2 linked regions of the Homo sapiens genome follow. The main gene of each other region encodes a partner of the protein of the gene in region 2 in a complex. Each region holds a gene or a part of one and is shown on either strand. Other genes may lie near its edges. The genes, in order: RAB25 and RAB11FIP2. A codon is read from its position in the direction of its gene.

Evidence for each region.
Region 1: the proteins of RAB11FIP2 (region 2) and RAB25 are in contact, whole or in part, in a crystal structure (PDB 3TSO), measured with the Homo sapiens proteins. Residues at the interface, in NP_055719.1 of Homo sapiens: Arg475, Glu478, Ile481, Asp482, Asn483, Leu485, Val486, Met489, Pro493, Ser494, Leu496, Arg497, Val498, Pro499; in NP_065120.2 of Homo sapiens: Arg34 (codon at 5,038), Ile45 (codon at 5,005), Gly46 (codon at 5,002), Val47 (codon at 4,999), Glu48 (codon at 4,996), Phe49 (codon at 4,993), Ser50 (codon at 4,990), Thr51 (codon at 4,987), Lys62 (codon at 4,954), Trp66 (codon at 4,942), Arg73 (codon at 4,921), Arg75 (codon at 4,915), Ala76 (codon at 4,912), Ile77 (codon at 4,909), Ala80 (codon at 4,900), Tyr81 (codon at 2,734).

What each region holds. Positions count from the first base shown.
Region 1 is NC_000001.11:156,064,160-156,071,004, reverse strand, and holds the end of RAB25 (ras-related protein Rab-25 precursor), read right to left. Parts: intron 5,095-6,845; coding exon 4,899-5,094; intron 2,736-4,898; coding exon 2,542-2,735; intron 1,335-2,541; coding exon 1,254-1,334; intron 846-1,253; coding exon 718-845; 3' UTR 501-717; downstream 1-500. UniProt on the Homo sapiens protein: The small GTPases Rab are key regulators of intracellular membrane trafficking, from the formation of transport vesicles to their fusion with membranes.
Region 2 is NC_000010.11:118,004,131-118,009,186, forward strand, and holds the end of RAB11FIP2 (rab11 family-interacting protein 2), read right to left. Parts: coding exon 4,868-5,056; 3' UTR 786-4,867; downstream 1-785. UniProt on the Homo sapiens protein: A Rab11 effector binding preferentially phosphatidylinositol 3,4,5-trisphosphate (PtdInsP3) and phosphatidic acid (PA) and acting in the regulation of the transport of vesicles from the endosomal recycling compartment (ERC) to the plasma membrane.

The sequences.
Region 1 (6,845 bases), on a different chromosome or scaffold from region 2:
GACTCCATCTCAAAAAAAAAAAAGACTGGATGGAGGACTTGGACCTTGCACCTCTCAGGCTTAAAAACCCCTTCCCCAGTACACACCTACAGGACTGGCCCCCACTCCCTCTTCTCCCCTTGTATCTCCCGCTGCCTCCTCCCCTTGCCCCTGGCATTGGAGTGACCTCAGTTGTTGGCACCAGGGCCCTCAGCACCAGATGGTGCCCGCCGATGGTTTCCTTTGTCTCGCCTTCCAGATATACCCCCTCCCCTCCATGCTCTCCTCCCTCCCCCACCTGCCCTGGGGGTTGGCAGAGGGAAGGGCAGGCACCTCCTATCCCCTTGGCACTGTCCCCAGACCACAGAACTCCAGAGGCAGCTGGCCCTGAGGGGCAGTAGGTATGGTGGGGAGGACAGAGGAAGGGGATTAGGGACTCAGAGGAGGGGCCAAAGTTGAAGGGGAGGCACAGACAAGGAGAAGAGGGAGGAACAGACGGGAGGCAGTGGAATGACCAGGCATTGATATAAAACAGCTTTATTTGAGGGTCCTAGTCTGTGAGGGGTGGACAGATAAAAGAGGTATTTGTGATAGGGCATGAAGACCTTAAGACCCTGAGGGTGCTGTGAACAGGGAACAGTCTGATATCTGGAACCAAAGGGCAAGGAAAGGTCCTGGGGCTGAAGTGGGGACAAGGGGCACCAAAAAGCCAGTGGGGGCAGGTGGTGCTGGCCAAGGTCAGAGGCTGATGCAACAGGCCCTCTTCTCCCCAGGGCCAGGCTCCTGTCCAGCCTGGGCACTGCCCAGAGTGATGGCATTGGTCCGGATGCTGTTCTGTCTCTGCTTGGACACCTTCGCAAAGATTTCTGGGAGGGCAGAGGGCAGTGATCAGGCCAGAAGATTTAGAGCCCATGCTCCCTTCTCCCCAACCCCCCCATACATACTGCATGCCCCTTCTGAGCATGGGGGGTGGCCACACTTGCAGGAGGTTTTGCAGGAAGGAAATGAAGTGTGGACATAGGGGTCCCTTCTACTTACTTGGGTGGAGAAGGAACCAAGAGTCAGCCCCATGGGGAGTGTGGCCTGTTCCCTCCCTGAGCTCCAGACTGAGTGGGAGGCACTGGGGAGGGACTGAGGGGGACAGGCAGTGGTGCCAGGACCCACAGAGGAGCTGAGAAATTAGCTGGGGTGAGGGCTGAGTGTCTGCATTCCTACTGCTGCCTGTAGAAGCCACGGGGATGGAATAGGGGTGCAGAATAAAGGTAGGCTCTAACCTTTCAGGACAGTCTCAAAGGCTAGCTCAACATTGGTAGAGTCCAGGGCTGAGGTCTCCAGGAAGAGCAGTCCATTGTTTTCTGCCAGGAAGGGAAACACACCATTAATTGTGGGAGTCAAAGGCAATAATAATAATAATATTAATGTTTGCTATATACATTTGCCATGTGCTAAACTCTTGGCATGTAGCAGATCATTTAATCCTTAAAACAACTTACAAGGTAGGTTCATTTAGAAAACTGAATCCAGAAACACAAAGAAAACAAATAAGGGGCTGGGTGCGGTGGCTCACGCCTGTAATCCCAGCACTTTGGGAGGCTGAGGTGGGTGGATCACGAGGTCAGGAGTTCAAGACCGGCTTGGCCAACATGGTGAAACCCCGTCTCCACTAAAAATACAAAAATTAGCCAGGCATGGTGGCGGGCACCTGTAATCCCAGCTACTCGGGAGGCTGAGGCAGAGAATTGCTTGAACCCAGGAGGTGGAGGTTGCAGTGAGCCAAGATCGTGCCACTGCACCCCAGCCTGGGTGACGGAGCGAGACTCCTCTCAAAAAAAGAAAAAGAAAAAGAATAAGGAAATTGCTCCATGTCCCACATTTAGTAACTGGCCAAGAGCAGATGGGAGACTGGGCCATGGGACTCCAGAACACCCTTAACCACCATATTGTGCTGCCTCTAAACTCAGAAAACTCCTGGGAAGCCTATCCTCTCCATAGGATCTTTGAGCATTACAGGGTGGGGCTGCCTTAAAATTAACTACGGGCCGGGCACAGTGGCTCACACCTATAATCCCAGAACTTTGGGAGGCCGAGGCAGCTGGATCACCTGAGGTCAGGGGTTCGAGACCAGCCTGGTCAACACGATGAAACCCCATCTCTACTAAAAATACAAAAATTAGCCAGGCATGGTGGCGCACACCTGTAGTCTTAGCTACTCAGGAGGCTGAGGCATGAGAATTGCTTGAACCCAAGAGGTGGAAGTTGCAGCGAGCCGAGATCGCACCACTGCACTCTAGCCTAGGCAACAGATTGAGACCCGGTCTCAAAAAAAAAAAAAAAAAAAAAATCAATAAAGACAATCTCAGGGCAAGTGGTGGGACATCATGGGAGACACAGGGTCCCAAAGGGGAAGTGCTGGGAAATCCTGAGGAAGAGGGGATGGGGTAGAGGACTGTATGGAGGAAGGCCAGGCTAGGGGCTCTATGGGTGGGGGCAGGGGCTGGGAGACTGCAAGGGAAAGGTGGGCTAAGCTTGGAGGAGTCAGCCTGGGTAGTGGCAGGCTCTCACCAGCGAACATTCGGGCCTCCTCAGTGGGCACTTCCCGGGCCTGGCTGAGGTCACTTTTGTTACCCACGAGCATGACGACGATCGTGGCTTCAGCATGGTCATAGAGCTCCTTCAGCCATCGCTCCACCACAGCATAGGTCTGGTGCTTGGTTAGGTCAAACACCAGGAGGGCCCCCACTGCACCACGATAGTACCTGGGTGGGAATGAGAAGGATGGACAGAGATACGATCAGAGGCATTGGACCCAGCATCAGAGCAGAGCCGTCAAGCTGGAACACCCGGGATCAGAGTACTAGAGATCAGGAAATACAGAAACTTGCGGCCAGGGGCCCAGAACCCAACAGAGCAGCCCAAGGCTCCTCTGCCTTCCAGGGACACTAGTCTTGGAGCCTGTAAAGTTTCACCTCCCTCGGCCAGGCGCGGTGGCTCACGCCTGTAATCCCAGCACTTTGGGAGGCCAAGGCGGGTGGATCACCTGAGGTGAGGAGTTCAAGACTAGCCTAACCAATATGGAGAAACCCCATCTCTACTAAAAATACAAAAATTAGCCGGGCATGATGGCGCATGCTTGTAATCCCAGCTACTCGGAAGGCTGAGGCAGGAGAATTGCTTGAACTCGGGAAGCGGAAGTTGCAGTGATCTGAGATCGCTCCATTGCACTCCAGCCTCGGCAACAAGAGTGAAAATTTGTCTCAACTAACTAACTAAATAAATAAAGTTTCACCTCCCTGCTCTAAAATCTCTATTGGCTTCCTCACAGCCAGCCCCTCTACTTTCTCAGGTTCTCGTCCTGATTTTAGCCCCTACTCTCCACCAGTGCACATCTGGGCTTTAGCCAACTCTGCCACCTTCAAGATCTTCCTCACATGGCTCCTTAACAGTGGCCTGTTCTCTCCCGTGGCCTTCTTTCTAGGATTAGCTGAATGCCTACCTCTTGCAGCAGTCCCTGGCCTGACCATTCAAGGCATCACTGAAAGCATCCAGTCTCCCTCTTGGAGTTGGATGGGATGTCTTCAGACTAGTGATGTCTAACTCCCAATTCATTGATGAGTCAACTGAGGCTCATAAGAGATCAGGTAACGAGGAGCATGTGTAACCAAAGCCCCTGACTCTTGCTTCCTGCCCCCTGGCAAGTGCTATCCACCCCATATACACACAAACAGACCCCATTTCACATGCTTAGGCCTCACACTGACTGGAAGACACTTTCTTTTTCTTTTTTTTTTTTTTTTGAGACAGAGTCTTGCTCTGTCGCTAGGCTGGAGTGCAGTGGCATGATCTTGGCTCACTGCAACCTCCACCTCCCAGGTTCGAGTGATTCTCCTGTCTCAGCCTCCCGAGTAGTTGGGATTACAGGCACCCACCACCATGCCTGGCTAATTTTTGTATTTTTAGTAGAGACGGGGGTTTCACTGTTGGCCAGGCTGGTCTCGAACTCCTGACCTTGTGATCTGCCCGCCTCGGCCTCCCAAAGTGCTGGGATTACAGGTGTGAGCTACCGCGCCCAGCTGACACTTTTTTCTTGAGACACAGTATCGCTTTGTCACCCAGGCTGGAGTGCAGTGGGGCGATTTCGGCTCACTGCAACTTCCGCCTCCCGGGTTCAAGCCATCCTCCCACCTTAGCTTCTCAAGTATCTGGGACTACAGGTACGCACCACCAAGCCCGGCCAATTTTTTATATTTTTGGTAGAGACAGGATTTTGCCATGTTGCCCAGGCTGGTCTCGAATTCATGAGCTCAAGCGATCCACCCACCTTGGCCTCCCAAAGTGCTGGGATTACAGGTGTGAGCCAACACACCCGGCCTAAGAGACACTTCGGATGTGGTGTCAGGAGGCCTAACCTCCTGTGTGTCCTCTGAGTCTTCATAAAATGCAGATGCTGGGTTCAGCTTTTGGTCCTCTGTGGTTAGATGAAAGTTGCCAAGTGCAGAGCATTGTGCGGAAGTGAGGGGGCGCTCTCGATCCGTGCAGCTCGCCCCCATCCTAGCTCCACCCTGATTTCACCTTGTTTGTATTTATACAGAAATTAACTAATTATAGCACTTTACTCCTGTGGTACTTTAAGGGTTACATAAAATGCCAAATGTAAAGTAACTTGTCCCTTCCTGGGCACATAGCAAAGGCTTAGTAAGTGGCAATGATTCCTGCTTTTAGTAGTACTAGTCAGTGTTACTATATCCTGGCTTGTGCTGTTTCTGTTTACAGTACCTTTTATCTTCTGTGATCTCCATCCCCACCCCCCAGAGCCCACTGCTGAGCCCCCTTGCCTCCTCCTCCCCCACTTCTCCTCCAGAAGTGTTCCTCGACTTCCCCAGAACTCCCACCACCCAGCAGCCCCCCAGGCCCGGGCTCACGCCGAGGTGATGGCTCGGTACCGCTCCAGGCCAGCTGTGTCCCAGATCTGAGCCTTGACAGCAGCGGTGCCCAACATCACAGTGCGGGTGGAGAACTCAACCCCGATGGTGGTGCGGCTGTCGTGGCTGAACTCATTGCGCGTGAATCGGGAGAGTAGATTGGTCTTCCCCACACCTGATTCGCCGATCAGCACCACTGAAGGAGTGGAGAGATAAGGGCTGAGCATGGGGTAGAGCAGCTCCAACCCCACCTGAGCTTGGAGGGTCTGCCCAGCAGAAAAAGGGAACTGAGCTCAGAAAAAAGATTAGGGAACGGAGTCTCCTGTGAGACTGGAGTCTGCAACTCTGCATAATGCATCTGTCCTGGTGGGCAGGAAAGCCAAGAGTTTAAAACAAACAAAGGGGCTTGACGGGTTATAGCCTGGTCTGTTGATACATGGTTGCAGAGTCAGCCTGCATCTCTGGTGAGGGAGTGACATCTGTGGGCTCTTTATGAGTGTCATGCGGAGACATTACTGTTGTGTGTGAATATGGACAGGGATGGTGGGAGGTCAGGGGGTGCACAGTTCTGGACTAGGACTTGGAGTATGAGAACATTGCACTTGTCTCTATATATATGAGCTGGGAGGACAAGTGGGAGGTTTGGTGTGTGTGTGTTTGCATAAGGAACAGAGGTGTGAATCAAAGTGTGGGTAAGGAGAAAGTTTGGCAGTTGACACATCTGTGGGTGAGAGGAAGGCATGTGTGCTCATGTGTGTGTAAGAAGTTAGGTTCCAGTTGTCCCTAAGGAGGGACAGTCCCGCATGGTTAAGAGCATGGGCCTGGGTGTTAGACCAGCTATGTGTCCTTCGGCAAGTTATTTAACCAATCTGAGCTGTTCTTTTCATATGAAAAATGGGGAAGACATTAGTATCTACCTTAAGGGTTATTGTAGGAAGTAAGTGAGACATTGCCCAGGATATAGTAAGTGTAAAAATCATGACTGGTATGATTGTTGTTAGCAGGCCAGAGTTTTTGCCTTTGGGTTTTCAGAGACAAGGATCCACCTGAGGGGCCATGAAGACCCTTTAGACTGGTGGGCAGCATCCAGGGCCCAGTCTTACCCATGTGGATGAGCTGGGGGCTGGGGTAGAGTGTAGGGGGCTGATGTGAGTAGAGCCCACAAATTGCACTGGCACTGAACTAAGCACACAGAATTAGAGGAGGCCACCCAGAGTGGTTCTGGAAAGGCAGGCTGGCACCCAAGGACTGGGAGCCACATATTGTGGGCTCTGGTCCCTGCTCAGCTTCTAACTAACTGTGTGAACTTGAACAAGTGACTCACCTTTTCTCAGTCTCAGTTGCCTTGCTTATACAACTTATAAAGGCCTCCTCCAACTTTAAAAGTTCCTTGGCTGGGTGTGGAGGTTCACGCCTGTAATCCCAGAACTTTGGGAGGCCAAGGCGGGAGTATCTCTTGAGCCCACAAGTTTGAGACCACCCTGGGTAACACGGTGAAACCCCATCTCTACAAAAAATGCAAAAATTAGCCAGGCATGGTAGCATGTGTCTGTAGTCTCAGCTACTTGGGAGGCTGAGGTGGGAGGATTGCTTGAGCCCTGGGGGTGCTGCAGTGAGCCGAGTTTGTGTTACTGCACTCCAGCCTGGGTGACAGAGTGAAACTCCGACTCAAAAAAAAAAAAAGAAAAAGAAAAAAAAATTAGCCAAGTGTGGTGGCACATGCATGTAGTCCCAGCTACTCAAGAGGCTGAGGTGGAAGGATTGTTTGAGCCCCGTAGGTTGTGGCTGCAATGAACTGTGATGGCATCACTGCACTCCAGCCTGGGTGACAGTGAAATTGTGTCTCAAAAAATAAAAATAAAAAATATATATTTAAACATTCCTTATTTGCATAGGACAGTATGGAAAAGCTGGAAATAATATGGATATGTGTGGGTAAGAGGATGT
Region 2 (5,056 bases):
TGGAAAGAAGAATCTAAAGGAGATGTGCTGGGAGAAGTAGAGGGACAGGTTCAACGGGCCTCCAGAAGGGACTACAATTCCAGAACAGAAAGGCGTTCTGGTCTGCTGAGAAATCCCTTGTGCCAAATATGTATGATTTATGTCTAAGACTACATATGGTTCATGTCCCATAATCTAGAATACAACTGCCTAATACACTGCCATAAAAATGTACCCATACCTCGGATGGAGGGGCATGCACTTAGACTGTTGTGTTGAGGGGACTGGAAGTGGTGACTGATTAATGACTTCTGGTAGATGCTGGAGGATAAGAAGTGGTGAAAAATGCTACCGGCTGTACCAACCCTATTCTACTTTCTTCAGTACCACAAAAGGTTTTCTTACATTTCCTCTGAAAGCTTGTGCATTCCCTACCTTACAGGGTTGTTGTGAGAAATAAAATAAAGCATAAATAGGAAGTACTCAGCAGAGACCTTAGCCTATATATAAATACTCAAATATCATTTCTACTAAATCGTAAGCTCCATCCCTATGAGGGGATGTCTTATATGTAGAGGGCATCCACACATTTGTTGAAGAATGTTCACTTGTACTTAAAAACTACTCTTTTGAATGACTTTTCAGAACTATCTTCATAGTAAAATAAGTTTGTAGGTCTTACAGAATATGTGCTACAATACACCAAATAAGAGGCATCCTAGGTATTTATTAAAAAACAAGGAGGACTCATATATAAATCCATTATGGTAACACCGCTGTATCTGTAATAAATGTTGACAACTGAATTAAGTTTAAACACTTTAATCAACTATAAGTCAATAATCATATATTATATAAAAATTCTGATTCATGCATCAGATTACATAAATTATACAATTGTCACATTATACAATGCTTACATACTTTTGAATTTGTACCTGCAAAAATGTATACAAGTTATGAGAGCATTTACTTAAGAAGATAAGTGTTATACTCTTCAGTTATAAATAATGCTTCTATCTTTCAAATACCCGCTAAATATATGCATTTCTAGATCTGCAGCATTTTTTTGTACCTCAAAACACAAACCATCTGGAAGCTTCGAAGACTAACAGGCCCACATGTATCATGTATTAGACTTCAACTCCACTGTGAGAGTGCATTTTTTGATGGATAAAACAAATGGAATGAAACATCAACTCTATTTTAATGCTTGAAGAGCTTCTATACCTCTTATTAAATATATCAGAAAATGCTTCATATGCAGATTAATTAGCTAAGGTGCTACCAATTGCATATTAAATACTTCCAATGATTGCATCTGGATTATTAAAGTTCTACATCTGTGCAAATGGGGGCTTTCCATGTGTGCTGACAGACCCTTCTACATACCATCATGGCCCAGCAGCACTGTGATCCTTTCCCTTATTTCAAAGGGACCAAGTGAATGAGCATGCATCATACTTCACTTACACATACACACAAGTGACACCTACCACCTACAAGACATATGAGTACATGAACATCAAAAAAGTTTCAGCTTGATTTACAAATCCAAGGTAAATTGCTTCTTCTGAAAAGCTACAGAGGAAAATAAAAGCTCTAGTGTAACATTTACTGTAGATATATTAGACAACAGTTTTTTGTTTTTTTTTTTAGATTCTCTTTGTTAAAGAATAAGCACCCTTCCGGGGATGGTAGGCAGGGAGGCGTGGTGGTGAGGGAGTTGCTGGAGGAATAACAAGAAGAAAACAAGTCTGTCACTAATGAGCTTAGTTTTACTTAGGTTTCCATTCATGAAACCCTTTTAAATACAAGGCAACATTTTCACAGCTGGAAAATTACAACTAAATCTTGATTTACCACCAAAAGCAATAGATGTAGTTATGTATAATCTATAGATAATACTACATTCAGGGGACAATGGCAAAACTAGGCTCAATGCAGAACATAGCAGCAAAAAGCAATACTTAAAAACGTTTTTCATGAATGGGTTACATGTTGTTTTATATACAATTCTAAGATATGACCCTGGTATTCAATAAATGAAACTTGAAGCGTAAGTGGTAGGAAGGTATGTTCAATATTTTTAAAGCTGAATTTTAGAATTGGTTATAAAATAATACTGCTTTAAAAATAATAGCAGAAATAGTTTAATTATGTAACAGAAGTACATTAGCTTAAGATAGTCTTGAGATAAATATCAATTCTGTGATTTTAAAAAATCCTCTTGTTGGTAGTAGTGTTTTGGGCATGCATTCTTTAAAGCATAAAAGCAAAAATAAACTCTATAATCTAGTGTACTGTGCATTATTTAATAAGCACATATATTTTATTTCCATTTCTAAGCAACTAACAAAATACATTAGAATACCTAAAGTTATGTTTTGGAAAAATAAACTAAGGTGACCTTTTTGGCCTCTTTTTCTACAACGTGAGAAATTAAAACTACTTTGCACTTCTGCCCAAACACAGGAAACACTGATATATTTACTTGGGAACTAATTTTTACTTTTTGTTTTTAGTTTTATTATTTTGACTGATTATGAAAATATGCAATAAGTTTACTCTAGGTAATGAGTGAAAATTCACAAACATTAGAACAGCAAATTTTCAGGCAGTGATGAATGTATTAATAGATCTAGTTTTAAATATAATACTTGTCTCAGATTTAAAGATAAAAATTTTGATTGAGTTATAACCAAATCACTCATGTATGAATAAAGCTAAGCCTCAATAGCTTTTATATAGGAAAAGAATCGCTCCTTAAAAATCAATTTCCCCATAAAAAGAAGAGCAGTACTTGAACCATACTTTTAAATGAGTTCTATTTATGTAAAACATATCCCCAATACAAAACTGACATCTTGGTTCACTCTATAAACAGCAAATTTGGCCAAAGCATATTATTATAGTATCTGCAGATACTGTCATAATACTGAAAACATAGATTTTCACATTTTAAGAAGTGTATGAAAAGACTCAATAATACTACCAGACAAAAACAAATGCTGAGAATTTTGTAACATTTAGTTAATTAAAAGTGGCACCATGTTTAAAAAAAAAAAAAAAACTACCAAGACCTCAAACGGGAAAATACCATTCTACACCAGACTTTGAGGTTTATTACAGAATCTTGAGGAGAAAAAAATTGATAAAAGCTATTTTTCCTTCTCCATTTCTTAAAGCATTTAATTTTTATGAAAAAAATGTTCATAATTTCAAAATGTATGTTCTTACAGTAAAACTGAAATGCAGAAGATACAAATAACAAGGGGTTTTAGTTTACAAATACGAGCTTGGCCAAGTATTCTCTGATTCAAAATACTAAAATAAGCAAAAAAAAAAAACCCAAACTATTATATCGGCTTTTTGTTTAACTTTCAATGGAGTCTTAACAGAGATAAGTATTAGAAAAAAATGCAATTCATGGAAAGATTGGGGAATATGTAAGTCTCCATATGGACATGAATTTTCATTTTAAATTCAGAAAGACATAGATACTCTCAGTGTTTTATAGTATTTCAGACTTTAAAGGCTGAAAAATAAGCAGAAGATTAGCAATATTTTTATAACATTGCTTGTCAATTTAAATTTCAGAAAAAATTTGTACAAATCATATAAAAATAATCCATGGAAGAAATCAGTATTTTGGGGGAGTGGACTTTAAAATAGAACATAATTTTGTAATAAATCAATTCTTAAAGGGTGGATGTGGAGTAATGCATAATGTCACGCTCGTAAAGTTCTCTTCTAAAAACTCACTCTTCCTTTAGTAAGTCTTATTTTGGTTCAAGACCCAAAGGCAACCATCTGCTCTATTATTTATGTAACCTGAAACCAAGCCTAATTCTTCATTCCTGGAATCTGCCCGCTGCTTTGGGTTATCAGACACACCAGGCAATCACATACTTCCCACAATTATTTTCAGATATAACTTTATAATATTTGCTTTGCTAGTGATTTAAAGGCATGCAGAATTTCAACAAAACAAGCTATATTAGCTTATCTTCTGCTTATACCTTAAACAAACTCAAATGTTAATTAATTCAAATAAATTCATGCTGTTATGAAGTTAATGAAGTCTCCTAAAATTTGTCATTCTTTAAAAAAGGACTTGAGATCATCACTTTTGGGGAAAGAGAAAAACTTTGATGCTAGAATAATATATAGCAGCTCACTTTGAAACCAAGGTCCATGTAGTCAAGAGTGATTTGAAGCAGCTTCTCTATAACAAACCATGACAGTAGGAAGGATGACTTGTCTTGCATCAATAGAGCACACACATTTTCAAATCAAGAAATTGGTAGCCTAACTTTAGAGGCAATCAATTGTTTCTAAATGTTCTAAAAACACATGTATATATGAGGTATATGCCTATATTTTATATACAAGATACATGAATATATATATATTCATGTACATATGTGTATATAAAATATAAACTGTTTTTTTAGTAGTGTTTATAACGAGCAGTATTCCTGAAGCTAAATATTTCTACAAACTGATTTCTGAGAAACCAGCCACAGGATCAATTCTGCTTTATGAAAAATCTATTCCTGAGGAACAACTCACGTACTTCTGAAGATATTTCTGGGCCTATGGCAGATTAGTGGGTCAGTACCAGCACCTGAGTGAGTCCTAAGGAACCACTTATTCATTGAGAATCTGGCCCATTTTCAATTTAAACATTTAAATGATTTAGCTTGCTTCAAAGGTCACTCTTGATAGTCCCTGCTAATATTTACAGGTAAAACTACTCTTCACAATAAAGGAGAATATGTAATGAAACCTGATAGTGTAGTCTCTTTCAGTAACAAGTTTTTCCTTCCTTCCTTCTTTCTTTCTCTCTCTTTGTCCAATTATCAATACAATACAATTGGCTTTATTAACTGTTAGAGAATTTGCCAGCTTTCCTGGATGGTTCATACGGCACTCTGAGAATACTGGGCGTTTCTTCCATTACCCTTACAAGGAGGTTGTCGATGTAGTCCTCGAGTTCCCGGATGTGGGTGTCTTTCCTCCTAAGGAGTTCTTTGTGTTTCACCAGCTCCTGTAGAACCTCTTCATAGGTCAG